Linked DNA regions of Homo sapiens: region 2 is linked to region 1. A link means that fine-mapping ties the variant in region 1 to the expression of a gene that starts in the linked region. Tissue or cell type: whole blood. Region 1 holds a variant in brackets; the other region holds the start of a gene. All regions are shown on one strand. Distances are from middle to middle.

Region 1 (2,759 bases):
CCCAAGTAGCTGGGACTATAGGCGCATGCCACCACACCTGGTTAATTTTTTGTATTTTTAGTAAAACGAGGTTTCACCATGTTAGCCAGGATGGTCTCGATCTCCTGACCTCGTGATCTACCCACCTTGGCCTCTCAAGCTGCTGAGATTACAGGCGTGAGCCACTGTGCCTGGCCATCTCTTACTTTCTTAGACTCCTCCCAGTATTATCTATCACAGGGTGGGTTTTCCTGAGTCAGTTGCTGAGATGGAGTTTTGGGTACAAGATTGGGGATCAATTGATATGAAAGGAAGGGGTGAATAAACAGGATCAGGCAGAGGGAGAGCTGAGTGGGATGCAGGCCACACAAAGCCTTGGCCAACCCAGTGGGGAGCTCTGGAGCAGGGACAGCGCAGTAGAGTGTCCCCTGTTTTGGGGAAAGGGCATGACCTTCGAGAGGTAGCTTTTTGCAGCTGGAGCGAACCCTGATGGAGCTGACAACTGGAGGCTGCCTGCCCACTGCACTCCCTGCAGCTGCACAGTGAGTCTTTCCTTGAAAGGTGGTCTGGGTGGTGCATCTCTATGTTTACCTCAAAGTGTCAAATATTTTATTCAACTTATCGTTGAGGAAACAGCAGTATGCTAATGCTGGTTCCGAGAGCATTTGAGGACCTGGATTTATATAATCCTTTATAAAAAAGAATATTAGATTAATACTGTTAGGTTAGGTACAAAACAGATTAATGTGTCACAGGGCAATGAAACCATATCCTTTGGAGTTATCTTTCTGACAGAACAAAAATCATTTGTTTCTCTACTGGACAAACATCTGCAAGTTAATAGAAAACTTCACAGAGTCTAGGCTTTTGATCAATAGTAGACAGTGTATCAAAGAAAGGCACATTCTACTTACAGAATTCAGTAGTTCCTGGGCGAGCCTGTTAAACAATGCTCCAATATGACATTAAAAAGACATGCTGTTGCTTGAGCCCAGGAGTTTGAGGTTATAGTGAGCTATGATCATACAATTGCCCTCCAGCCTGGACAACAGCACGAGACTCCATCTCTAAATAAATAAATAAAGAAGACACACTGATCTCCACTTGCTCTATTTCCAAGTTTTTGGATACATTTTCTTATCATCTCTAAGGCAGAGCATCCCCCCTCTGGTGCTGAACAACCAGCCTCTTCCCCCTCACCTTTTACATTTGTCCTTGGAATTGGATCTTCGTTTTGTCAGGAACTGGTTACTGCCTTCCAGGAGCTTTGAAGAGTTGAATACAATTGCTGCCCATGGTTTCCTTGTCTCCTTTTCTTAAAATTTAGCAATCACATTGAAGCTAAGCCTCCTTTCTAGTGATTGCAACTTACTGTTTTTATCAGAAAGCTTCTATTTTCCAAGGCAAAAATGGTGGCTAAGGTAGACCCTCAGATGGACCCCTACTTCTCCTTAGTCAGAAAGTA[A/G]TCTTTTTGGAAATCTGAAGAAATTTCTTGTATAGCTCCTTTATCGTCCTTTATCCTCTGAAAAGTCATACTATAGTCTTGCCCATAGAACAGCCCTTCGTGAATCCTTACTTATGTTATGTCTAATTCTCCAAACACCCCCCCCTTTTTTTTTTTTAAACTAGACGGAGTCTCACTCTGTCACCCAGGCTGGAGTGCAGTGGCCCAATCTCGGCTCACTGCAACCTCCACCTCCTGCTTCAAGCAATTCTCGTGCCTCAGCCTCCCGAGTAGCTGGGATTACAGGCACACGTCACCACGTCTGGCTAATTTTTGTATTTTTTTGTAGAGATGGGGTTTCACCATGTTGGCCAGGCTGGTCTTGAACTCCTGACCTCAGGTGATCTACCCACCTCAGCCTCCCGAAATGTTGGGATTACTGGCGTGAGCCACGGTGCCTGGCCTGAACACCTTTTGCATTTGTCATCATCTAAGTCTTTATGTTTCTTCCTATCAATATCTTCTTACCACTTTATCCCCTACACCCATTCTCCGTATCCGTGCAAATGCTCCTCATCCATCAAGTTTCAGTTTCATCTCCTCCATGAGTAACACTTCCCTAAGGACATTGTGTCCTTTACAATTTTTTTATAGCTTTATTGAGGTACATTTATTGACATACAATACATGGCACACATTTAAACTGTACAATTTGGTAAGTTTTGACATATGTTTACATTATGAAACCATCACCACAATCAATATAGTGAACATATTCATCACCCCTGAAAGTGTCCTCATGCCCTTTTGTCATCCCTCCTTCTGGGTCCTCCCTGCCACCACCTCCTCAGAAAATCAGAGATCTGCTATCTGTCAGTATAGGTATTTTGCATTTTCTATAATTTATATAAATGGAATCATATAGTATGCATTCTTTTTTGTCTTTTTTTACTCATATTACTGTAAGATTCATCCAAATTGTTGCGTGTTTCAATAGGTCATTTATTTTCATTGCTGAGTAGTATTTTATTGTGTAGATATAACACAATTTATCTATTTAACTATTGATGAACATTTGGGTTGTTTCCAGCTGTGGGCTATTACAAATAAAGCTGCTCTGAACATTTGTGTACAAGTCTTTGTGTGGACTTATACTATCATTTCTTTGGGGTAAATACCTAGGAGTGGAATGGCTGGGTTATATGTATATGTTTAACTTTGTAAGAAGTTGCCAAATAATTTTCCAAAGTGGTTGTATCTTACATTCTTACCAGTGGTGTATAAGGGTTCCAGTTTCTTCACATCCTCATCAGCACATAGTATGGTCAGCTTTTAA
Region 2 (2,608 bases), 470 kb before region 1:
CATGGTTCACTGCAGCCTTGAACTCCCAGGCTCAAGCAATCCTCCCACCTCAGCCTCCCGAGTAGTTGGGATTACAGGCACGTGCCACCATGCCTGGGCTAATTTTTTTCTTTTTTCTTTTTTTTTTTTTTTTTTGAGACGGAGTCTTGCTCTGTCGCCCAGGCTGGAGTGCAGTGGCGCAATCTTGGCTCACTACAACCTCCACCTCCCAGGTTCAAGCGATTCTCCTGCCTCAGCCTCCTGACTAGCTGGGATTATAGGCGAGCGCCACCACACCCGGTTCATTTTTTGTGTATTTTTAGTAGAGACGGGGTTTCACCATGTTGGACAGGCTGGTCTCGAACTCCTGACCTCGTGATCTGCCCACCTCGGCCTCCCAAACTGCTGGGATTATAGGCTTGAGCCACCGCGTCCGGCCGCCTGGGCTAATTTTTAAAATTATTTGTAGAGATGAGGTCTCACTGTGTTGCCGAGGTTGATCTCCAACTCTTGGGCTCAAGCGATCCTCCCACCTGAGGCTCCCAGAGTGTTGGGATTACTGGCATGAGCCACTGCGCCCAGCCGAGGAACACTTTTCAATCCTTACCCAGTTATTGTGAACGTTCATACCTTTTCTTGAAGAAATACCGTTTTTGTTGTTGTTGTTGTTTTTGAGACGTAGTTTCGCTCTTGTTGCCCAGACTGGAGTGCAATGGCATGATCTTGGCTCACCGCAACCTCTGCCTCCCGGGTTCAAGCGATTCTCCTGCCTCAGCCTTCCGAGTAGCTGGGATTACAGGCATGCGTCACCGTGCCCAGCTAATTTTTGTATTTTTAGTAGAGACGGTGTTTCTCCATGTTGGTCAGGCTGGTCTCGAACTCCCGACCTCAGGTGATCCACCCGCCTCGGCCTCCCAGTGTTGGGATTACAGGCGTGAGCCACCGCGCCTGGCCCTTTTTTTTTTTTTTTGTAACGCGGCAGCTCCAAACCCCGCTGAGAGTATATGCATGGGAAAACTTTCTGAAATCAAAAATATTCCGAATTCTGGCAACATACTGGGCCCCAAGTCTTTCGGATTTAACTCTGCCTCGGCCGTTTTATTCAGTTAAGGAAACTGAGTCACTCCATCCCAAAGCCAGATTCCCGCGGTTCTAAGCTGAAGCTGTCTCGGGTGCATTTGCATTCCAAAAAGGCGAAGGGTCCCGCTATTACTGCTCCTGGTACCTGGAGCTGCCAAGCACCCCTGCGATGGGGCGCCCCGGGGGCTGTGCGCCAGGCTGGGAGTATCCTTGGGGGGCGGGGCGAGGGGGCTTCCGGGGCGGCAGCCACCTGGCCCGGCTCCGGCCCCGCCCGCGTCAGCTCTGCGCGGTGATTCACTCCCTCCTTCGCCCCGGGGCCCCCTTCCCGGCCAGACGGCGGGCAAGACAGCTGGGTGTACAGCGTCCTCGAAACCACGAGCAAGTGAGCAGATCCTCCGAGGCACCAGGGACTCCAGCCCATGCCATGGCGGATTCTGAGCGCCTCTCGGCTCCTGGCTGCTGGGCCGCCTGCACCAACTTCTCGCGCACTCGAAAGGGAATCCTCCTGTTTGCTGAGATTGTGAGCGTTCTGGGGCAGGCGCGTGGGCAAAAGCGGGATGGGGTGGCTGGACCATGCGGAACTGGATGGTCCGGGTGAGGCAGGCACTTGGCCGGGGCGCTCGGCAGTGGGGTGCAGGTGGGTGGGTTCACGGTGGAGGCCCGAAACCCGGGGCGCAGGGCGAGTCGGTGGGGTTTGACGAAGGTTGTTGAGATCTGGTGGTCCCCGGGGTGAAGCAAGGAGCCTATAACGCATACGGAGGGCTACGTGGGGACAGCCTGCGTGAACTCATCAGTGGACGCATCGAAGGGGTCCCAGGGTGCTGGGAAGTGGGGGCCTCCTGTGGCAGGGCGTGGCGCGGCCTGGGCACAGGAGGGCGGGCTGGCAGCGCGCCCAGGGGCAGGGCCTGTTGGGGTGGGGCCCCCCCGCCCCGCGCTAGTCCCGCGGTGTAGAGCGCCCCGCCCTTCGCCAGTTCTTCCTCGCCCTTCAGAGGCCGGGCGGGATGTCCTTAGCTTTTCGGGGTTTCCACCCTTCTCAAAGTGGGCGCCGCCTTTGAGTCACTTGTAAAAGGGGTGCGGCGCCTTTAACGGAGTCCTGCCTCTCTGGTGTCACTCTCACCGCTTCCCAAAGGGGTTGCTGGGGGAACCGCGTGTTCCGCCCCGGTCAAGGCCACAAAGCTGGCGTCAGCGGGGCTCACAAAACACCTGGCAGCGCCACTCCCCTCAGGCTGCCCGTAACCTAGAAGGGAAAAGAGGAAACTGAGGCACCCAACTCTACTCCTTACTTGTTGGGTGACCCTGGCCAAGCCATTAAACCTCTCTGTGCCTCAGTTTTCTCGTCTATAAATTAGAAAGAGTAATAATAGTACCCAGAGCATTAGATTGTCGTGATGATTGAATTTGGAACACAGTGAGCACATAAAAAGTGTTTAGCTATTATTGTATGTCATTTCCCCAGCCCTCGTAGGCATCTTAGTATGGGACCCCCAATTTAAACCAATCTTCTCAGCCCTGGTTGCTGATTGAGGTCCCCTTTCCCATGTCACCCTTC

The links. PIP is the estimated chance that this variant, and not a neighbour inherited with it, causes the effect.
Region 2: it holds the start of PLP2, and the variant in region 1 is fine-mapped to the expression of PLP2 in whole blood (TOPMed, PIP 0.97).

The regions. Positions count from the first base shown.
Region 1 is chrX:49,638,389-49,641,147 of GRCh38, forward strand. No RefSeq gene overlaps it. Among named protein-coding and RNA genes, the nearest start is that of GAGE1, 41 kb to the left of the region's middle. The variant A/G (reference allele first, on the strand shown) is at 1,445.
Region 2 is chrX:49,170,518-49,173,125 of GRCh38, forward strand. It overlaps PLP2 (proteolipid protein 2), which reads left to right and starts at 1,381. Exons shown (of 5, transcript NM_002668.3): 1 at 1,381-1,579. The coding sequence starts at 1,484. RefSeq lists silencers at 1,258-1,357, 1,878-2,077.